3 linked regions of the Homo sapiens genome follow. The protein of the gene in region 2 interacts with the protein of the main gene of each other region in a pairwise test. Each region holds a gene or a part of one and is shown on either strand. Other genes may lie near its edges. The genes, in order: MAGEB6, F8 and TSC22D2.

The links.
Region 1: the proteins of F8 (region 2) and MAGEB6 interact in binary tests that used the Homo sapiens proteins (3 or more experiments, as listed by UniProt).
Region 3: the proteins of F8 (region 2) and TSC22D2 interact in a two-hybrid assay, tested with the Homo sapiens proteins (one study listed by BioGRID).

What each region holds. Positions count from the first base shown.
Region 1 is NC_000023.11:26,187,406-26,195,690, reverse strand, and holds MAGEB6 (melanoma-associated antigen B6), read right to left. Parts: upstream 3,252-8,285; 5' UTR 3,164-3,251; intron 1,906-3,163; 5' UTR 1,845-1,905; coding exon 621-1,844; 3' UTR 45-620; downstream 1-44.
Region 2 is NC_000023.11:155,012,461-155,020,501, reverse strand, and holds part of F8 (coagulation factor VIII isoform a preproprotein), read left to right. Parts: intron 1-8,041. UniProt on the Homo sapiens protein: Factor VIII, along with calcium and phospholipid, acts as a cofactor for F9/factor IXa when it converts F10/factor X to the activated form, factor Xa.
Region 3 is NC_000003.12:150,453,001-150,461,041, forward strand, and holds part of TSC22D2 (TSC22 domain family protein 2), read left to right. Parts: intron 1-4,075; coding exon 4,076-4,127; exon of another isoform or gene 4,128-4,132; intron 4,133-5,375; coding exon 5,376-5,636; 3' UTR 5,637-8,041. UniProt on the Homo sapiens protein: Reduces the level of nuclear PKM isoform M2 which results in repression of cyclin CCND1 transcription and reduced cell growth.

The sequences.
Region 1 (8,285 bases), about 130 Mb from region 2:
AATATGAAGTGCACTAGAACAAAACAAACTAACGGCAGTCTTAATAACCTAAATAAATCCAGGTATCCTTTATTTGTATGAAAAGAAATAGGAAAACGAATTAGGCAAACCAAGAATTAAACAACTTTTACATTTCTGTTTTTCCTTTTCTTTCTCTTCATATTATGATGTCAACTATTTTACTGTGGAGTTAAGATTCATATGAAAATCAATTCTCTGTTACCATGTTATCTAGTTCTCAATTACAAAGAAAATGTGTTGTATGACTTTGTTTTATTAATTCCCAAACCGTAACTTTCAGATTGGTTAAACAGCCATGAATGTGAGAGCTATGTTATTGATAATTGTATAATCTGAAGCAAAATAAACCTTCACTTAACAGGAACAATGTTGATAACTGACAGAGATAAAACATAAATCTGCAAGTTACTCATGTGTAACAAAAGAAAGATACATATCTTGTTCCCTCCAGCCTCTACTATACTGCACTACTTAGAAAGCTCACTACTCTCTTCTAACATAAAGTGAAAATTCTACTTCAGACCTCCCTAGAAATGGGAGGATCTGTAGGATATGGCCCCATAAGGTACCCTGGCCAAGGAAATAGTGCCAGCCCTGCCTTAAGCTCTCAGTCTCAATGCTCTCTCTACCTCATCTATCAAAGCGTCTTCATACAGATGTGGGTATAAACCGGGACTGGTGTTACTGCTGTCGGCCAAAACACGCAGGACTCTCATCTTGGTGGTTTCAGCATAGGCTCGTGGACCCCACAGGAACTCATAGCATGGAGGATCACTGTTGCACACCTGCCGGTAAACCACGTACTTATCTTGCACCAAATCTTCAGTAATGATCTTCCGAGCATCCCCATAGATTGAATGCAGGATCCCATCATATATCCCCAACAGACCCAGGAACTCCCAGACCTCCTCTTCAGTGGCACAGTTGCCGTTCATGAAGATCACAACCAGGAGCGACATCAGGAGACCCGACTTCGGCAGCGCATTATCACCACTCAGAATTCCTTCACTGGGGAGGCCTAGCTTGCTGACAAGGGTGTAGGACTCGCCGCTGGAATCCATTTCTTTCAATTCAACGCCAAAGGCCACCACCAAATGTTGGGAGGTTCTGTTGAGGATCTGAGGGAAGTAGGGCTTGTACTCTCTGCGGACACACTTCAGCATGTCTGCCTTCAAAATGGACTCTTTCTTCTCAAACTTCTTCTGCAGGAATTGCGCCAACGTGCACGCCTTCTTCTTTACAGCATCTTTGCTTAAGCGCTTAAAAATGATGGCTTTCTGTGAGGCGCTTACACTTTCCTCATCTTCACCCTCGGCAGCCACATCATATTTTGAGCCTGAAACACCTGCATCAGGCGAGCCAGTGGGTGAAGCTCCCTGAGACTCCTGAGGAACGGAGACATCATGGGAAGTGCTTGGACTTTTCTCATCTTGGCCGTTGGCAGCCACATCATATTTTGAGCCTGAAACACCTGCATCAGGAGAGCCAGTGGGTGAAGCTCCCTGAGACTCCTGAGGAACGGAGGCATCACGGGAGGTGCTTGGACTTTTCTCATCTTGGCCGTTGGCAGCCACATCGGATTTTGAATATGAAACAACTGCATCAGGAGACCCAGTGGGTGACACTCCCTGAGACTCCTGAGGAATGGAGGCATCAGAAGACCTACGACAATCACCCAGACAAGCGCGAGAAGAGGATGAGGAAGAGTGGGACTCTTCCTGCTTCTCTGCAGTGGCCTGGGGACCCGTGAGACCCTGTGGCTGACCATTGGTCTCTTGGCGTTTCTCACAGGTACGGAGCTTACTCTTGTGACCCCGAGGCATGATGGCTGTGGCCTGTGACAGCAGGTAGGAGTGTGGGTAGGAAGACTAGGAAGGCTGGCACCTGGATGGGAGAGAGTGACGTCACGTCAATATCTTCAGCAGAGAGCGACCATCTTGGCTTTAACTAGGGCCCCTTCTGCAGGTTTCCGCAGAACAGCTGCTCTAGGAACCCACAGGACTCCTTTTCTCCTGGTCAGTTTGTCTCCTTCAAACTCAGGAGGAAGTTAGAGTATTAGACTATAGCATGACAGCCCATTTTGGGGCTTACTGAGGTGACAGCAGGGGCTGGCAGTGGGGGCCCCTCTGTTCAGGGGTTGGATCCTCTCTGTTTACATTCAGGATCATCATTAAAACTGGAAACCATCATTCTCAGCAAACTATCGCAAGGACAAAAAACCAAACACCGCATGTTCTCACTCATAGGTGGGAAGTTAACAGTGAGAACACATGGACACAGGAAGGGGAACATCACACTCCGAGGACTGTTGTGGGGTGGGGGGAGGGGGGAGGGATAGCATTAGGAGATATACCTAGTGCTAAATGACGAGTTAATGGGTGCAGCACACCAGCATGGCACATGTATACATATGTAACAAACCTGCACATTGTGCACATGTACCCTAAAACTTAAAGTATAATAAAAAAAAAATTGTTGACAAGACCCAGAGGCCCATTTCCTTGTGCCACTCTGAAATTGACAGTAGGAATTTTAACCCGGAGGAAATAAGGAAGCACTTCTGCCCAACACTTCATTCCGGGGACACCCAGACCACCTAGGGCTGACAACAGCGGAGGCATTTGAGTGCTCTTCCAGTTATAGTGAGAATGCTCCTCACAGTAATTAGACTCCTCACCCTGACTCTTCCCACAACCTGGAAATCACCCTCACTGACCTGCTGCCATCTCCTTACAACCAGGGGCCTACCTCTCTGACTCTCACAGGGACAAAGTGAGAATGCACCTCAGTCTCTAGAGACCTGCCCGGACCCCCAGGCTAACGTCAAGGGCAGAGTTCGGTGCAACCCGTTACGGGACATGGAATCCCCTCCCTCAATTCTAAGGAGGGTCCTCTTAACTATGTAGGGCCTGAGATTTCTCCCTCTACTGACCTGGGTCCACAAGCCTTGGACCGAGGCCTTCATGTTCTTCAACACGACGGAAAAAAATGAATGGACTTTGGGCCTAACAGCCATGTTTGGGGACTCCTCAGGGACCAGGTCGGGGCAGGTTGGGGCAGGGCTCTGTGGAGCCGCCTTTCTTCGGGGGAAGGGGGTTGAAGTTGTCGGGGAATGCCCCCCGTTCTAGGTCAGGATACCCACCAAGACAGCTGAGAAGATCTGGGACGCCTCCTTCCGCTGACGTGACAGCACTTTTCAGGCTCAGGCGACCGGCTCAGACCCCTTTATTAGGTGGAAGTCAAGAGGAACCACTTCCGGCCACGCCCACCTGGCGCTCCCTGCGTAACAGTAGCTGCAGGGCTCTGTTACTCCCCCTTGTGTTCTGTGGGTGCAGCAGATTCCAGGGAACTCACGTAAAGTTCTTTCAGGGGCTCTTCGCGGACCCTTGGACTTCTCTATCTGTTGAGCTGAATCAGTCAACCGGAGATAGAGGCTCTCATTCCCTGAGAGTCCAGAGTTGGAAGTAAGGTGCAGCCTGAGCTCGGGAGCCATGCCGGGACCTTCCAAGACTGACAGTAGGGGTGGAGCTCTGTGAGACCCCCTTTTTGGAATGGACTTTGCCCTCAGCCCTCACTCAGTGTCGTCGCTTCATTCTTGCCATGTCCCCTCTACTGACTTGAGGACACCCTCTCAGACTAGACTTCAACTTCCTGAGACTCCTCATGTGCAATTCAGTTACACCTCACCTGGCCACTACTGCCTGGGGCCTCCTAAACCTGGCTGCTGCTATTAAGTTGTGATGCAAGATCGGGGAATGAAGGGAGATTTGGGGGGCACTCTTGTCTCTTCTGATATGTGGAGCCCCTCAGTCCTCACTCAGGGTCCTCACATTGACTGCTGGCAGGGTCTCAGTTTTCTCCATTTTCTGATGTAAATTCATCCCCTTCCTCTGACTAGATCCTGTAAAATTCATAAGGAGAAAGTGAGAAGACTTCTTAGCCTGATAGCTATGTCTGGGACTTCTCTCTTGGCTGACATCAGTGTCTGTATTCAACACCTTCATGAATGAATTTCTACCATTATCTTGTGTGACTCACTGCAATATTTGCTATCCTAATTTAGTCCATTCTTTATATTATATTAAAATAATACGAATTTAAAGGCCAGTCCACTTCCACTAAAGAAGTTTCAGGTAGTTATTAGCACAGTGTCTGGATTCATACTTCTTCAGCCTACCCAGATGTTTTTGCTGTGGCAATATTACCCCATGGAACTGGCACATAGGGTCCAAGTTTCTGACTGAATTTCCTTTAGTGAAGCAGAAAAAAAAATGCATTGTCCAATGGCACAGTGAAAGAAGCAAAGACCAAAGTTTTAAAGCTTTTCCTCTAGCCAATTCCGTTATCTGCGTCTGTTGTAGGCCACAGACCTGTCTCTACTTCAGCTCATGCCCCTACCTGCCCACACACCCATTCTTGTTCAATACAAACTGACCATCTCTCAAGGTTCGCATTTTTGTTGTTTTGCTGTTGTTAATACTGCTTTTTTTTTAAAAAAAAATTCTTCCTTTAACTTTTCTATGGTTGAGTTTGGTCATGGGAAAGAACCACCCGGGTTTGGTTGTCATCTTCACAGCTATGGCTAAGGCAATGAATCTGTAAAAAATTTAAGGAGAATCAATAACTTTACAATATCTCCTCCACAGTAAATAAACATAGTACACTGCTTTATTGGAGATTTATTTTTCCTAAGTCTTTCAGTAAATTTTTATAGCTGTCTCCTTAATGAACATGTACATTTCTATTTGGTTTTCTGTTAGATATATTTTGGATATTGTTGCTGTTGTGAAAGGCATATTTCACATTACATATTATAATTAGTTATTGATTTTGTGTGACTATACTCCTGACTTACCTATGGTGATCTTTTGTACACACGTTTTCTTTATTTCCTTATACATTTAAATATTTTTGCACCAATTACGTTGTTTTATTTTTAAATTAGGAGATTATATTATCACAATTATCTCCTTTTGTTATTGTTACCTCTAATTTACTCGGTATTATTATTATAGTTGTGAACTATAGATGTATTTTCATCCAGTTGTCAGCAGTAGGGTTTATACTATACAGGTGTATATTCTTCTGGACTCTATTCGGGATGTTTGTAATGTTTCACATTTAGTATGTCAATTATAGATTTTACAAGATGGAAATTCTCTCCTAATGTAAGTTTGCTAAAAGTTACTATCATACACTGGTATTGAGGGTTTTTTAAGGCTTCTCCTTTACCCCTGCACATGATCACATGCTTTTTCACCATTTTTGGTAACATAGTGATTTCCAATTGATGGTATTTTCTAATATGGTATCATCTTTGCATTTCTTGGATGCAGGCTATTTATTCATTAATTCACTGCTATATTGGATATGCCTATATTGGATATACTATGAATTTATTGAGAATATTTTGTCTCTATGTGAATGAACTGATCTCAAATGTTGTTTTATTGGACTATCTTCATCTGGTCTTTGTGTCAAAGAAAGCAAGCTTGTTAAAATGATGGAGTAATTCTCCCAATCTTTTCGTGTTGTTTGGAAGAGTTTACATGAAGTGGTGATTAGTTTCTTCTTCACCATTTGATGTAATGGGTCTCTAAACCTGGCTGGTCCTAAAACAGTTTGAAGGTACTTTGGGTTTGGACTATAGTTTCATTTTCTACTGTGCATTCAAAGAGTTCTGTATTTTTATGAGTCATTTTCATTTTGCTAAAAATTGTTCCATTTTACTTAGGTTTTCATATTTAAAAGCATGATATTCATAATAAAATCCTGTTATGGAAATTCTCAAATATATGCAGTAGTACAGAGAATAGAATAATAAACTCAATTAGCTAAGATTTGTCACTAATAATCTTCAATTTTTATGAGTAGAATATTGTTCATATTAAAGTTTATTGGCAAGTGCACTCCAGAGGTGATATGGTGCAGTTTCATTAAGAGATATATAATTTCTGTTGTTTCTTTTGTGATGATGTTGGCAGCCATCACTTTTATCCATTAATCTATCATGGGTTGCAAGATGGTAATTCTCTGATTCTAAAATTCTTTTGAGTTTATTACCCGAAATTTTTCAGATAGAACCTTCTCCTTGTCCATCATTTGTTATCTTGAGATACAGATAATACTTGATAACACTTACGGTGTTCTCTATTAGTATTACATCTTTTCTACACCTAAGTTTTGTATAATTTTACTTATCTAATATCATTTATTTCTGCTTTTTTCATTTGTAATTGATGGTACTCATACACATTGTTATATAAATCCTTTCAAAGAACTGGCTTTTACTAGTTGGTTTGACTATTTTCTCATTTATCACTTTTGAATTTATCTTCATTATTCCTACCTTCTTCTTTGTGTTTAATATGCTATTCATTCTCTAGCTTCTTGAATTGTTACAATGTTTCAAACTTTTTTATAGTAAATCTATTTAATGCAATAAATATCCCCATAAGTACTGCTTGGGCTACTTTTCAACAATTATGCTAATAGAACTTTATGTGTAGAGCTCAATTTTTTTACAAGCTGAACATATATCTCTTAATGCTCTATAATATTTTCAATATCTAAATATAAATATATGTATATATTTTGTGTGTGTGTTTATGCATACAAAAACTAGGGAGTGTAAAATTTATTTAGGACAGAAACAGAGAATTATTTAAAGGAGGTTTAAAGAGCCATGGTATGTTGTGTTGTGTTATATTTTACTTAATGATAGAAGACACTTGAGCAAATTTAATTACTAATGACAGAATGGATGTTTTTTTAAGCAGCCATTCTTAAAATGGCTGCTTAAAATTGTTAATGGCTGAAAGAGCTTCAGATGAGAAAATCAATACAAATAATTAGCTAACTGCAAATATTCATGGGTTATTCCAGGAAAACAAACTACTCTAAATATATAACACAGGGATGGAGTTTTAATGGGCATACTTTATTTTGTAGAGCAGTTTCCAAGTTTACAGAAAAATTCGGTGGTAAATACAAAGAATTCTCTTATACCCTCTCATCGGTTCACACACAGTTTCTCCTATTATTATCACACATTAATGTGGTATACTTGTTAAAATTGATGAGCTAATATTGATACATTTTTATTAATTAAAGTTAACCATTTATATTAGAGTTTAATCTTTCTATTATATATCTTATGGGTTTTTTAAAATGAATGACACGTACACACTATAACAGTATCATACAGAACAGTTTCACTATACTAAAAAAAATCCACTGTGTTCCCCTTATTCCCCCATCCCCCCAGAACCCCCCTTTTTTTAACTGTCTCCATAATTTTGCCTTTTCCAGAATGTCATATAGTTAGAATCCTACAGCATGTAACCTTTTCAAATAGGCTACTTTCACTTAGCAATATGCATTTAGGCTCCTGCATGTCTTTTCATAGCTTAATAACACATTGTTTAATCACTAAACAATATTTCATTGTATGCTTGTGGGACACTTAATTCTTGTTGGTTTCTGCTAAGTTTTGACAATTAGGAATAAAGCTGCTTTGAACATTTGTATTCAAGTTTTGGTGTGGACATCAGTTTTCAACCCATTTGACTAAATACCAAGGAGAGTAACTGCTGAATCATATGACGAGAGTATTTTAATTTTGTAAGATATTGACAAACTGTCTTCCAACGAGGCTGTACCATCTTTGCACTGCCATCATTACTGAATGAGAGATTCTATGCCCTACATCCTCTCCAGTATGTGTCTTGTCAGTGTTTTGGATTTTATCCACTCTAATACATGTGTAGTGATATCTGATTGTTGTTTTAATTTGCAGTTCCCTAATGATCCATGATATAAAGCATCTTTTCATCTTTGTGCTTGTTTGTAGAGAATTGATATCATTCCTTCCTAAAGATTTGACAGCATTCACCAGTGAGCTCATTTGGGACTGTTGTTTACTCTTTTGGAAGCTTATCAGTCATTGATTCAATTTCTTTAATAGATATAGGCCTATTAAGATGATCTCAGTCTCCTTGTGTGAGTTTTGGTAGATTGTGTCTTTCAAGGAATTGGTCTGTCTCATCTAGGTTACCAAGTTGGTGGGCATAGAATTTTTCATAACATTCCTTTACTATCTGTTTAATGTCAATAGAATAATCAGTGATGGCCTTTCTTTCATTTTTGACATTAGCAATTTGTGTCTTCTCTCTTCTTTTCTTAGTTAATGTGACTGGAGGTTTATTAATTTTATTAATCTTATCAAAGGACTGCCTTTTAGTTTTGCTGATTTTCTCTATTGA
Region 2 (8,041 bases):
TTTCATATCTTCAGAGTCGGCAAGGTTGGTTAAAAATGTTTCCCACACCTCAAGATTGTACGTGTAATCTCCCAGATTTTCTTGCAAGATGTTTACTGTTTCGCTTTTTATATGCATTGCTTCAATTATCTGCTAATTACTTTTGTCATATGGCATGAGAGAGGGATTTGTCTAGTTTTATTTCCATCCAGATCAATAGCCTATTGTGATGGCACCTTTTGCCACTGATTTGAATCAACACATTCATCATATAAAGTTCTCATATATATTAGCATATATTTCTGGATTCATTAGGCTGTTTCACTAATCTACTATTATCTTGCTATGCCAGTACCATAGTGATTTGATTACAGTGAGCCTATGATATCTTCTGATATCTGGTGGGTGAAAGCAATCCTCACTATTCTTTTTGTACCTTTCTTAGCTATTCTTAGACACTTTATTCTTCCACATAAAACTGTTAAGATATTTTTCAAATTAAAAAGATCCAAGCCCTGTTGTGATTCTAACTGCAATTTCATTAAACTCAGACCTTAATTTTATTAATGTAATAAATTTAAATATTTTTCTTATTACATTTATCTCTGTGTATTTTATAAGTGTGATGCTATTGTTAATAAGATAGTTTTCTCCTATTTCCATTTATGAGTGCTTAGTACCAAATAGAGATAAGCTATTGGTTTGTGTATTTTCAGCTTTTTCTTTTGAGCCTGGGTCTCATTTTGTCACCCAGGCTGGAGTGCAGTGGGGTGATCTCACCTTACTGCAGCCTCAACCTCCTGGATTCAAGCAATTCTCCTGTATATCAGCCCCCCAAGTAGCTGGGACTACAGGAGCAGGCCACCATGCCCGGAAAATTTTTGTATATTTTTTAGAGATGGGTTTTTGCCATGTTACCCAGGCTGGTTTTCAACTCCTGAGCTCAAGCATTCCCCCCACCTCAGCCTCCCAAAGAGCTAGGATTACAGGTTTGAGCCACCGCACCCAGCCATTGTATATTCATCTTAAATCTAGCTACCTTACCAAATTTGCCTATTAATTCTAGTAATTTTACCCTAAAGTCTCTGTGAGTATTGAATCATATCATAAGTTAAATGAGACAGATTTTAGCTCATTTCCAATATTTATAGCCAGTTATTTCATTTTCTTATCTTATTGAATTTATTAGAAAACAAGAGCAAATGTTAAATAATAACAATGAAAGTGAACATTCCTTCTACTCTATGATTTTACTTGAAATAATTTTTGTATTTTGCTATTTAGAGTAACATTTGCTGTTTTGGTTTTTGTAAATGGTGTTTATTCTATTCTCATTTGCCACAAAATGTTTATCATAAATAAGTTTTCAGCAGCTGGTATCATCTGAATTGTCTTCTTTGATATGCTGATGAACAAATTATGTTCATAGATGTCCTGACACTAAATACCCTTACATTCTTGGAGTAAAATCTACTATTCATGGAATTTGATCATTAGTGGGTTCTATGTACTATTTCTTTAGACTATTCTTAGTAGATTTTCACTACTCAACCTACTAATAATAATAAACAAAGTTTTGTTGGCTTTATCAAATGAATTGATGAGTACTCCATCTTTTTCTATTGCTTAGAATAGCTTAAGTAACATTTGAATTATCCATTGTCTAAAAGTTAGGTGAGACTCACTTATGAATCCATTTGGTCCTAGTGGCATTTGCAATATCTTTAATCACCCCTCCAGGCTCTTCTATGATAATCAGTCAATTCAAGTTTCAACTTCCAATAATTATATACCTTTCTAGGAAGTAACTTTATTTATTTTTTCAATTTTGTTGCCACAGTGTTGCATGTAGCACTCACTCATGATTCTTTTACTCCACATTATCTGTAGTTATGTGCCCTTTCTTATTCCTAAATTCCTCTATCTTTGCTATTTATCTTTTTTTCCTTGAATAAGCTTGCCAATGACTTGTCTATTTTGTTGCTGGTGGTGCTCTTTTCAAAGAATGGGCTTTTGGATTTTTTTTTTTTCTAGTTGGTATAAAGCATTTTTATTTTCACTGAGCAGAAAAAGAAGCTATTGATTCATTAACTGTGCTGCTTTATTGGCATGTAGCTATGCACTGTTCACACATTAATATATAAAACTCGTCAGTCTGTTTTATTTTGTCTGATGGGAAAACATGAACAGTGAGATTTCTTATGCAAAAAGTGAACAGTTCAACTATGCTAGCTCCATATACCTTTATTAACATTCCAGAGACTTATCCTCTCAACATGATCTGATTTCTGTAGGATAACTTTTCAGGAAAAGTATTTTCTGATCAGTGAAGCTTGGAGATATAAATAAGCAATCGGCCAGGTATGGTGGTTCATGCCTGTAATCCCAGCACTTTGGGAGGCCGAGGCAGGCAGATCACCTGAGGTCAGGAGTTTGACACCAGCCTAGCCAACATGGCAAAACTCCGTGTCTACCAAAAAAAAAAAAAAAATTAGCTGGGCATGGTGGTGCTCACCTGTAATCCCAGCTACTGAGGAGGCTGAGGCAGGAGAATTGCTTGAACCTAGGAGGCGGAGGTGGCAGTGAGCTAAGATTGTGCTCAGCCTAGGTGACAGAGTGAGACTCCATTTCAAAAAATAAAAAAATAAAAAAAAGCAGTATCTCTCATATTCATTAACTGGACCCTGACTTTCTTAAAGCTCACCCCAAAGCTGAAGTCCATGAAGGCACTAGTTCTCAAACTTCAGTGTGCATAAGAATCACTCGGGAAGCTTATTAAAATTTACATTCCTAGGCCCCATCCTCAGCAAACTATTTAGTCCCCAGGTAATTCTATCCCACCCCACCCCAGCTTTATTGTGGTATAATTGACAAATAAAAGTTGTATATATTTAAGGTGTACAAGATAATGTTTTGATGTAAGTATACATTGTAAAATGGTATAGCATGAAGGGTTTTCTTTTCATTTTTTTCAGAATAGTTTGTAATATCTTCTTTGATTTCATCTTTGATAATCTAGACGTATGATTTTAATTGCTTTTTAAATTTGTTTATCAAGTTAGTTTGTAGTATTTGGGTCAACATTGAATATCCTGTTAATTTCCTATTGCTGTGTAACAAACTACATCAAATGTATCAGCTTATGACAGACCCATTTACTGTCTCACAGTTTCTGTGAGTTAGAAGTCCAGGTGGACTCAGCTGGATACTCTGTGCAGGGTCATACAAGGCCAACACCAAGGTTTTAATAGGGCTGCACTCCTTAGTGAAAGCTCTTGGGGAGAATCTGCTTACAGGCTCATTTGGAATGTTAGCAAATTCAGTTCCTTCTCTCACTTTCCATGTAGTGCCCTCTACCAGCAATGGTGCATCAACACTCTCTCATGCTTGGAATTGCTCTGACTTCAATTTTCCGTGCATATCTCTGGCCTTTTTTGCCTCTCTCTTTTACTTTTAAGGACTCATGTGATTACATTGGGCCGACCTGGGTAATTCAGAATACTCTCCCCATCTCAAGGTCAGCTAATCAGCCCCTTAATTCCATCTGCAAAGTTTAATTTGCCACATAATATATTTTTGGACATGACACCAAGGAGCAAAGGTGATGTGGGCCAAATTTTTACCTGCCACAGGTATAGTTTACATACAATGAAGCTCATCAATTTTAAATATGCAGTTTGATGAGTTTTGACAAATGCATACACTTGCATAACCACCACCCTAATCAACATGCATTTACATCAACCCTCCTGCAACTTTTTAATGAGTCTCTCCCACTGACCTGGCCTCAGCCAATAAACTGCTATCTGGAAGTTACAGATTTGTTTTCACATGTTCTAGAATTTTACATCAGTGGAATCATACGGTATGTATTCTTCTATGGCTTTTTTTCTTCAGCATCATGATTTGGAAATTCATGCAGGTTGTTGTATAAAGTATTTCTATCCTTTTTATTGCTGATTACTGCTCCATTATGGGATTATATCATAATTTTGGATTATTTCCAGTTAGGAGCAAATACAAATAAACCTGCTATGAACAGTGCTCCACATGTTTTGTGTGAACATCTATTTTCATTTATCTTAGTTAAATATCTAGGAGTGGAATTGCTGGATCATATGGTAAGTGCATGTTTAAGAGAAACTGCCAGACAGATTTCTTGAACGTACCATTCTATACTCCCACCAGCAATGCATGAGAGTTCCAGTTGCAATATATCCTGGACAACATTTGATGTTGCCAGTACTTAATGACTGCACAGTGGTATCTCACTATACTTTTTTTTTTTTTTGAGATGGAATCTCATCCCATCACACAGGCTGGAGTGCAGTGGCGCAATCTCAGCTCAACATCTGCCTCCTAGGCTCAAGCAATTCTCATGCCTCAGCCTCCTGAGTAGCTAGGACTATGGTCACACGCCACCGTGCCCAGCTAATTTTTGTATTTTTGGTAGAGACGGGGTTTTGCCATGTTGGCCAGGCTGGTCTCAAACTCCTGGCCTCAAGTGATCCACCCGCCTCGGCCTCCCAAAATGTTGGGATTACGGCTTGAGCCACTGCACCTGGTTATACTTTTAATTTGCGTGTCTCTGATGACTAAAGATGTTGAGCATCTTTGCATGTGCTAATTAGCCATTCCTATATCTTCTTGGAAGTGTCTATTCAAATCATTGGTCCTTTGTTTTTAAACGTAGTTTCAACTTTTATTTTAGACTGAGGAGGTACATGTGCAGGTTTGTTACATGAGTATGTTGCATGGTGCTGAAGTTTGGGTTACGAATGAATGATCCTGTCACTGAAGTAGTGAACATAGTACCCAATAGGTGGTTTTTCACTCCTTGCTACCCTTCCTCCTCCCTCTTTCCTCTAGTCGTCTCCAGTGTCTATTATTCTATGTCCATGTGTTCTCATCATTTAGCTCCCACTTCTAAGTGAGAACATATGGTATTTGGTTTTCAGTTCCTGTGTTAATTCACTTAGGATAATGGTTTGCCAGTTTTTAATTGGGTTGTTTGTCTTGTTATTGTTGAGTTTTGATAATTTTTTATATATTCTGGGTACAAGACTATTCAGAGGTACCTGTTTTGAATGTTTTTTTCCAATCTATGGCTTGCATTTTCATTTTCCAAATGGTGTCTTTCAAATAGTGGAAATTTATAGTTGTAGTTAAGTCCAATTTAGCTTTTCTTCTTCTATGATTCATGCTTTTTTTTCCCCTGTCCTAGGAAATCTTTGCCCACCTCAAGTTCACAAAGCCTTTCTTCTGTTTTCTTCTAGAACTTTTATCATTTTAGCATTAGTATTTAGGTTTATAATACATTTTGAGTTAAATTTTCTGTATGGTGTGACTTTTCTTTCTCTATTGAATTCCCTTGGTGCCTTTGTAGAAAATTAAATGACTGTATATAGGCAAATCTGTTTATGGATTCTCTAGTTCCATAGATGTGTATATCTGTGCTTATGCCAGTACCAGATTGTTTTGATTGTTGTAACTTTATAGTAAGTCTTAATATCAGGCAGTCTAAAACCTCCAACTTACTTTTTTATTGAAATTGCTTTTGATATATTTAGGCTTTTATATTTCTGTATTAATTTTATAGTCAACTAGCCAACTCCACCAAATAGCCAACTGGGATTTTGACTGGAATTGAATTGAATCTGTAGATCAATTTGGGGAGAATTGACATTTAAACAATACTGAATCTTTCAATACAACAACATGGTATGGCTTTGTTTCTTTAAATTTTCTTTAATTTCCCTCTAGGATATTTTGTAGCCTACAGAGTAGTTCTTGCAAGAATTATATTAATTGTATCCCCAAGTATTTTGAGGGATTCGATGCTATTGTTAATTGTATCATTTTTATTTGTTTTCGTTTTCCAATCATTTGTTACTAAAATATAGAAATTCAATTGATTTTTGTATATTGACCTTGTTCACTCTAATCTTGTTAATTTGCATTTTAGCTCTAGTAGCGTTTTGCACTTCTTTTAGAATTTCTACATATACAATAATGTTGTCTGCAAATAAAGACAGTTTGCTTCTTCCTTTCCAAACTGGATGCTTTTTATTTTTTTTTTCATGCCTTACTGTACTGGCAAGGGCCTCCAGTACAATGTTAGATAGAACTGATGATAGCAGAATCCTTGTCTTCTTCCTGATTTCAGAGGGAAAATATTCATTATTTTACCATTAAGTACAATTACTTGTAAATTTTTTCATAGATGCCCTTTGTCAAATTGAGGAAGTTTCCTTCTATTCTTGGTGTGAGAGTTTTTATCAAGATTTGATATTAGATTTTGTCAAATGCTTTTTCTGCATCTATTCAAATGGTCATATGGTTTATCTTGTTTATTCTGTTATGGTGAATTACCTTGATTGATTTTTTAATGAGGAACTAGCTATGTATTCCCAGGGAAAAAATCCACCTGGTTGTGACATATTACATTGGTAATATTTTCGCTATGGACTGAATTGTCTCCACCTCCCCCCACCCCAAATTCATATGTTGAAGTCCTAACTCTCAAGATGATTATATTTGGAGATAGGGCTTTTAGGAGGTAAACAAGGTTAAATGAGGCCATAAGGATGGAGTCCTAATCTGATAGGACTGGTGGCCTCATAAGAAGAGAGAAGGTTCTCTCTCTACACTCATGCACTGAGGAAAAGCCATGTGAACATACAGCGAGAAGGCAGCCATCTACCAGCTGGGAAGAGGGCTCCACTAGAAACTGACCGTGCTGGCACCCTGATATTGGATTTCCAGCCTCCGGAACTGTGAGAAAATAAGTTTCTGTTGTTTAAGTCACCCAATCTCTAGTATTTTGTTATGGCAGCCCTGGCCAACTAAAACTGTTTTGTTAAGGGTTTTGGTGGTGATGGTGGTTTTTTAGTTTTTGCGTCTGTGTTCATGATGGATATTTGGCTGTGATTTTCTTATAATGTCATTGTCTGGTTTTGATATAAGAGTGGTATTAGTCCGTTCTAATGCTGCTATGAGGACATACCCGAGACTGGGTAATTTATAAAGGAAAGAGATTTAATGGACTCACAGTTCCACATGGCTGGGGAGGCCTCACAATCATGGTGGAAGGCAAAGGAGGAGCAAAGACACATCTTATATGGCATGGTGGCAGACAAGAGAGCATTGTACAGGAGAACTGCCCTTTATAAAACCATCAGCCCTCATGAGACTTATTCACTATAATGTGAACAGCATGGGAAAACCCCACTGCCATGATTCAATTACCTCCCACCTGGTCCCTCTCACAGCACATGGGGATTGTGGGAGCTACAATTCAAGATGAGATTTAGGTGGGGACACAGCCAAACCATATCAAAGAGTAAGACTATTCTTTTTTTTTTTTTTTTTTTTTTTGAGACGGAGTCTCGCTCTGTCACCCAGGCTGGAGTGCAGTGGTGCGATCTCGGCTCACTGCAAGCTCCGCCTCCCGGGTTCACGCCATTCTCCTGCCTCAGCCTCCCGAGTAGCTGGGACGACAGGCGCCCGCCACCACGCCTGGCTAATTTTTTATACTGATAGTAGAGACGGGGTTTCACCGTGTTAGCCAGGATAGTCTCGATCTCCTGACCTCATGATCCGCCCACCTCGGCCTCCCAAAGTGCTGGGATTACAAGCGTGAGCCACCGCGCCCGGCTGACTATTCTTATAAAATGAGTTGAGACGTGTTCACTCTTCTATTTAATGAAAGAGTTTGTGTAGAATTGGTATCATTTCTTTTTTAAATGTTTATTCACCAGGGAAATCATCTTATCCCAGTGTTTTTTGTTTTGGTTTGGTTTTTTTTTTAAGGGTCTTAATTGTGAATTCTATTTTTAATAGGTAAAGGGCTATTTGAATTTTCTATTTCTTATAGGATAAATTTTAATAATTTCTTTTAAGAAATTCCATTTGAGACTGGGCATGGTGGCTCACACCTGTAACCCCAACACTTTGGGAGGAGGCAGCAGGATTGCTCTAGGCCAGGAGTTTGAGATCAGCCTGGGCAACATAACAAGACTTGACTTCTACAGAATTTTTTTTCATTAGCCAAGTGTGGTAA
Region 3 (8,041 bases), on a different chromosome or scaffold from region 2:
TTTTTCCCTCATGCTTCTGTAGCAGTAATTGTAACACTTGATTTAAAATTGACTTATTTCAGTTTGAGTATGTATCTATACATACACACTAATCTGAAATATTTATACTACCACCATTGTAGGGTACCGGGTATATATACTTTGTGCTGGAAGTAAAGACAGGAAGCCTTTTCTTAGGGAGCTTAAGTTTGGAAACTGGTTAAACCATCAAAATATAATGTGCTGAATATAATAATTAAAAAGAAAACAAGGTATATAGTATTATAACATTAGGTGAAGGAAGGAAATTATTGATTCTGCTTCAGTTGATCTTTCTCATTTTAAAAGAGTCAAATCTCACTATGATAACTTTGAACATAATAGAAAACATCTTGATACCCTCATTGAAACAGTATTTTTAAACCATATTCTGGGATCTTGAAATAAAATAGTCTCTTATTTGCTTAAGACTACCATATTGGTATCTCCATCGTAAATATGGCTAAAGCAGTGGTTCTCATACTTTAGTTTCTATCTGAATCGCCTAGAGAGTTTGTTAAAATAGATTACGGGGCCCCGCCCCAAGAGTAAATCTGGGGTGGGTCCAAATATTTACATTTCTAACAAGGTCTTGGTGGGTCCAAATATTTACATTTCTGACAAGTTTCCAGGTGATGCTGATGATTCTGGTTCAGGGACTACACTTTGAGAACTGATTTATCTGAACTCAAAAAATTTTAATGCCTTCCTCATATGAACCATTAATTGTTTCAAATCTATCATATCTAATTACTATCAGTATGCATTGAGTTACTATGTGCTAAGCACTGAATTCACTTATTCACAAAGATGAAGAAGTTATGGAACCTTTCTCAAAGAGCTCAATCTAATAGGATCAACAGTGGTAGTATTACAATACTCAAAGTAATCACTGTCTGTATTGAGTGCTCAGTGTGCCAAGTACTATGCATTATGTAAACTCATTTAATCCTCACAATTGGCATATAATCCTTATTTTAAATGAAAAAACTGAGGTCTAGAAAGGTTAAATAATTTCCCAGAATTCATATAGTGAGTATATGGAGGAGCCAGAATTTGCTATTCTGCCTTTTTGCACTATAAAAAGTTTGCGAAGATTGGTAGACCCCAGAAAGGATGGAGTAATTGGCTCTACCTTAGAAAATCAAACAGCATCACAGAAGAGATGGCACTGGAGCATCTTAAGGGACAGGTCTAAGATAGCCAGATGAATTGGAACTGTGAGCATTTCCAGCTGAGGGAGCAGTTTCTGCAAAGCCAAGGAAACCCGAGAGAACATATGTTCCACAGACTACAAATAGTTGTATAAGACCATAACACAATAGGCAGATGGAGTATAAGAGGAAAACAGACTGTATAAGGCAGAGGTCAAAGTCATAAAGAATTTTATATGCCAGGCTAAAAAGTTTTAAAAATAGAATTAGGCTTCTTAATTTTTCCTCCTATAACTTTCATTTGTAAGCCAGCAGTTCTCAAAGCATAGTCAGACAGTAGATTCCACATCATCTGGGAACTTGTTAGAAATGCAGATTCCTGGTTCCATGCCTACTGAATCAGAAACTCTGAGTGGGGGAGCCCAGCAACCTGAGTTTTAACAAGACCTCCAGATGATTCTGGTGCATGCTAAAGTTTGAGACCCCTGCAGTAGGTTATAGAATTCTTGAATAATAGCCTTCAAGATAGTTAAAGGTCACTATAGTGGTAGTAATTATATTTGACACTGATTTATTCTATTAGAGTACAACACCTAACAGTTGAAATATTAACACCATTTAAGGGATACATCTTCATCATGATCTATTTATACCTTGCAAACCTGTTTCTTCTGTTGTCATAAAAGAGATCTTAGGACAAGAGTTTGTTAGGTCAGCATTCAAAGAATAGCATGCTAACTATTCTTCCTTAGCTATGGGAATCATTCTAAAACTCGCTGACTGATTTTAATTATCAAAAAAAAACCCCAGTAATTTTTGTTTTTTTTACTGCTTGTTAATACATAAAACTGATGTTGTAGTTAGTATTTAAGGTGTGCTATTTAAACCAAATGTGTTGAAGGAATCAAATGATTTAAGTCATGACATGACTTAAAAGTAATTCAATCTTTCCTTGTCATGTCAATAAAAATATAGAAAGTATAATCTGGGATTCCCAAGCAAACTAATTTAAATGCCTGTCACCGTCTTTTTTGCCAAAATGTGTTCAGTATTTGTGGTGAATATGTCTGCATGGTATCTGGCACTGAAGTATATACTAAAGCGTTATGGTTGACTTAGTGGTTCTGTAGTTTATAGTTACATATAGTCATACTTTGCACAGCTCACTAAAAGCATTTAAAGCCCAGCACATATAAAGTATTTGTTAATGATCCATAAATCCTTTCTAGATATTAGATATACAAAACCTCTTTTCATCTTAGAAATAGTAGCAGCAAGAAGTGAAGGTAGTATGCTGTAATTAATGTGGTTAATGCTCAAATAAACAAACGTAGTTTCCCATGTAATGATTCAAGATTTCAAGGATTTAGAAGTGGAAAGTCCATTGAGGCATTGACATCAACCCCTTGTTTTACAGATGGGGAAACTCAGATCCAGGGAAGTTAAATAGGTGATTTGCTGATGTCCCATAGGAAGTGAATAGCAGGATATCACAGGACAGGATATTTCTGAGCCTCAATCTGATACAACATTATGGGTCCACACCATCTAAAGTAAAGTAGTTTCCAGGTATTTTAGCACTAAAATCTTAGGTGGAGTATACTTTATGAAGAATATTTAGTAACATATAAAAAATTATCTTTTCGTATTGATACAATAAGCTACAGTATCAGATTTTTCTTTACAAGAGTAATTTTTAAAAACCTAATAACTGTTTTTAGAAATAAAATTCATTAAAAAACAATAAAAGGGTATAAATTCCAGCTATTCTTACTACTTAATACATGGTAGAATATAAACCACCAAAGAGGACAATTAGCCTTCTGTGTTATTATCATACAATTGCTAAGGTGATATTTGAACTTGGAATGTGCTTACAGGCTGGATAACTTTTCAGTTATTCCCAAGAAGAACTGATCTAAACCACACATACCTTATAGGTGATTTTTGCCAGCAAGTAACCTACAGTCAAATACATGTAGGTCTGCCAGAATGTTGTTTCTTTTTGTTTTTTTTTTTTTTGTTTTTTTTTGAGATGGAGTTTTGCTCTTGTTGCCCAGGCTGGATTGCAATGGCGTGATCTCGGCTCACTGCAGCCTCTGCCTCCTGGGTTCAAGTGATTCTCTTGCCTCAGCCTCCTGAGTAGCTGATTACAGGCACCCGCCCCAAGCCTGGCTAATTTTTTTTGTATTTTTAGTAGAGATGGGTTTTCACCACGTTGGCCAGGCTGATCTGGAACTCCTGACCTCAAGTGATCCACCTTCCTTGGCCTCCCAAAGTGCTGGGATTACAAGCGTGAGCCACCACGCCCGGCTGAATGTTGAGTTTCTTGTTAACCAATCCTACCCAAAGACTTTCTGAACCATTTTTAGAAGCCATTAAGTTTTTTTTAAAAAACTAGATGTTAAAGTATAAAACTTATACCAGAAAAGTCTTACTAAGAGGAGGGACTAGAAAAAAAAAAGTCAAGCCATCATCTGAATTTTACTACAATAAGTAATTATTGGAATTTCTACATGAAAGGCAATTAGAATGTATAGTTGGTTAATGTAGAAATTTAAGAGATACGGAGAAGACACTGCCCATTTAAAATGTATCCTTTTAAAACCACTGAACAGAGAAATTCTTAATACAATTGAGAGTTAGTTTTAAAGTAGCATACATGTATTACAGGCAAATTAGAAATGTTGGCACTACAAAGGACCTGTAGAAATCATCTATTTACTGAGACTTTCATTTTAGAAATGAGAGCTTTGAGTACTGAAATTGTCAGAACAGAATAAGCTATTTTAAATTACTGTATATTTGGTTTTAAGTGAAACACAAATGTCTTTTACATTCTTTTAAGAGTTGGAAGGGAGGTTAAATTTTTTAGAATAATAACATATTCTAATTTTTTCCAGTGCATCTGGGGGAGGTGTTGTAGCCATTGACAACAAAATAGAACAAGCAATGGTAAGTAAAAGTTTACAGTTCTCCCATTTCATAGATTGTTGGTTGTATGGAACACTTAGCTTTTGTCAGTTTTAGAAAACAAATAAGTTATTTAAACCAAAGATGACCAAATCATGTTTTTTGATAATGAGATTTAGTTGAAGATGCTAGAACGTTGAGAACTTTTAGTCTAGAAATACTATTTAAGTAGATATTTCTTCCATTTGAATATCTCACATTTCATGCATTATCATTGATAAGGGCCATTGGTGAGGGGGCATACATATTTAAAGACAATATGTTCCCCAGATATTTCAGCATTGAAAATACTTTAGAGTGAAAAAGAGTATTAAAGCAAAAACAGCTGGAGGTCTGATTGAAGTAGACTGTAAGTAAGCTATAAGTAGGCCAGGCACAGTGGATTGTGTCTGTAATCCCAGCACCTGAGCTGAGGTGGGAGGATCACTTGAGGCCAGGAGTTTGAGACCAACTTGGGCAACATAGCAAGACCCCGTCTCTACAAAAAAAGTTGGTATTTTTGTTTGTTTTGAGATAGTCTCGCTCTGTCACCCAGGCTGAAGTACAGTGGCATGATTTTGGGTCACTGCAACCTCCACCTCCCAGGTTCAAGTGATTCTCCTGCCTCAGTCTCCTGAGTAGTTGGGAGCACAGGCACACACCACCACATCTGGCTAATTTTTGTATTCTTAGTAGAGACGGGGTTTCACCATGTTGGCCAAGGTGGTCTCAAACTCCTGACCTCAGGTGATCTACACGCCTCAGCCTCCCAAAGTGCTGGGATTACCGGTGTGAGACCTTACAGGACTGTTAGTCTCAAACTATTTTTTTAAAAATACCAAAATTTTAAAGTCCAAAATTACAGATCACTTTAAAGCAGTACTATGACTAGTTTAACATCAAACAGCTTTCCGTTGGAATATTGTTCCTTTGTTCTCTTTATCTACCATTTTAAGCATGTGATTTTAAACTTTTTTTTTTTTTAATTCTAAGCTTAGTTGACAATTTAAGAAGCTAGTATTTTTTGGAAATCGTCCCAAACTTTGAAAAGAAAATTCTGGGCTTACTGCTCTGGTTGGGAACTGGATTTTTTCCAACCCATCTTCCATAGGCTCGGTCAAGATAAAGCAGAAACATTAAAAGCAAGAGCAGGAAAACTAGTATAAAAACTTAGCACCAAGTAGGCCAGAACCAGATAGCACCACCTTTATCTTTTCACTCTTTTGACATTCCTAATTTTGTTTTTCACAGGATCTGGTGAAAAGCCATTTGATGTATGCAGTAAGAGAAGAAGTGGAAGTTTTAAAGGAACAAATAAAAGAATTAGTTGAAAGAAACTCTTTACTTGAACGAGAAAATGCACTGTTAAAATCTCTTTCAAGCAATGATCAATTATCCCAACTCCCAACCCAACAGGCCAATCCTGGTAGCACTTCTCAACAGCAAGCAGTGATAGCACAGCCTCCGCAGCCAACGCAACCTCCACAGCAGCCGAATGTCTCCTCAGCATAAAGCTTTCTTAAGCCTCATTAAGAAAAAAACTGAAAGCAATCTATCCTTGTGTGCCACTGGTGTTCTTTCCACTTTATACGAAAGCAAGTAGCCATGCTTTGGTTGTGTGTTTGGCCTTTTCAGTATTAGACAATCATTCTACAAGAGCTTTTCCTCTCTCTGAGATGTCATGCAGCGCTGTTGATGTCCAGTTCTATGTCATCAGTACACAAGGAGAATAATAGATGGGGTTTATTAAAGCGAGCAAAGTCTGCATTTTACCTGGTGCGCATGAGTGGGGTCTTTAAGAGTTTTGGTGGCTCTCCCATGTTTCCTATTACCCATGGATTTACCCTGAGCCTTCCTATCACATTATAAATAACAGTTCATCTAAAGAGCCACTTTTCTTTCTGATTCAGTAACATTTGCCTACATAAGTTTTCATTTATTTGTGTTTTATTTATTACAGGGCTGCTATTTTCATAATGTACATGAACAATGTCACAGAACTTTTTTAATTTTTTTGAATAATTATAAGTATCAGTAAAGGAAGTGAAAGACAGGATTGCATTTAATAGATAAAACGTTTAGGCAATAATTGAACAAAAGAATCCTGGCATATTTCTAACACTAATGGCAATTTACTTATGGTATTTATTTTCAGTAGTAAAGACCCAGCTTGAATGTAAATTTTGTATAGTGTAAGTATGAAGAACATAGTGCAACTGTACAGGTAGTCACCAGTTATTGTGATATGATAAATAATTGGGCTATTTTGATGAAGAAAACTTTGTTCATTTGTTTCTACTTTCTAAGAGAAATTGCCACGATTCCTCTGCTTTTCAACATTTCGTATGACTTTTTTTTCGGGTGGGAATAAAAAGCTGTGAAATTGTTCAACCTACTTTGTAACCAAAGAAGCAAAGCTGTGTAATGGAGTTTGGTTTTTTTTTGTTGTTTTTTTTTTTTTGTCTTTTTTTTTTTTTATAATGCACATTCTTTATGTATTTTTATTTAGTGTTTTCTCAGTCACAATTTTCTTTACTGTCTAGCATGATCTGCATGACCTATAATCTTTGAACCACTTTCGTACCTCATGTTTTTATCCAGCACTCTTATTGTAATATGTACTAGTCTGTGAACAATGTCAAATAAAAGAGAACGAACAGGTAGTTTGGTGGAGCTGAGCTAGTGTACAATACACTAGTTGTAAAAAAAAAAAAAAAAAAAAGTGAGCCATCTTTTGTTCATTTAAAATGGTGTTTTGAATTTCGTATGCAGAAAACGTTTTGTTACATTGCAGATTTTAATGTATTTAATAAATGCAACATGCAGATTAAGTGCAGTGTATACTGAGTATTTAAATTAAAATGTACATTTCATAAATACAGTTTCAAAAGAAAGCATCATTTTGTGTATACTAACACATTAAGTGTATGTCAGAAATTGATGTATAAATATATATTTTAACATTTTCTGAAATTAAACTGCAGTTTTGTTGAAATATTTGGCTCTATATGTGTTCAAAATTTGACTAGATTTGTATTTTCACAGTTCAAAATACTCCTTAAAGACCTGTTAATAATGACTTACTGATAGTTCTTAAATTTTCAAAGTAAAACAATTTAAAGAATGCAAAAATAGTGAGCAATATTTGTACTCAATATTCATATTATGTTAGTGATACTTAAGTAGGAAATCCTTGTCTACCAAAACTTTTACTTGAATTCAGAAAGGTGCCTGTAGAAATTAACATGCACTGCATCTGTAGCCAGCTAGCTAATCAGAGTTAATGAGAACCAGTAGTTAGTTCTCCGTGTTAAAAGACTTATTTGAAGTAAAAATTTAATCAGATTAGCCACAAACAAACAAGGCATAAAATTGGGATGTACATGAGATTGCCAAATATTTTCTATTCTAGTTGTGCTGCAAGACATTGAACAAAATGTTAATGAATAACATTATAAATCAAGGAACTAAGTACATAGGCTTGAGTAAGCAACCCTAAGGATGTGTAGTAAGATTCCAAGTAGAGCTGCTACAGGTGAGATACTTAATGGAATGTGAAACTTCACTGTTGGACTGTTAACCGAAAAGGTTTGCTGGCTGTGCCCCTCCAGTGCTAACTGTGACATGTGATATTTAATACAGGTGGAGAAAAACTAGTCTTAGAAATGGGATTTTTGTGAAAATAGATTCCATTTTGATTCTGGGGCTGGAAAAACACTTCATAAACAAAGTAATAGTCTCCAAGGAAATGAATAATAAGGTTTAAAATGGTAACAGCAGTTATTACTACTTTTATATTAAGAAAAACAGTAGAAAAGGAGAGAAAATATGGGTAGTTCACAGAAGAGATAAATGGCAGTTTCTAAAGGTTCAACCTCTAGTAACCTAAGAAATGCAAATTAATGTTTTTGGCGAAT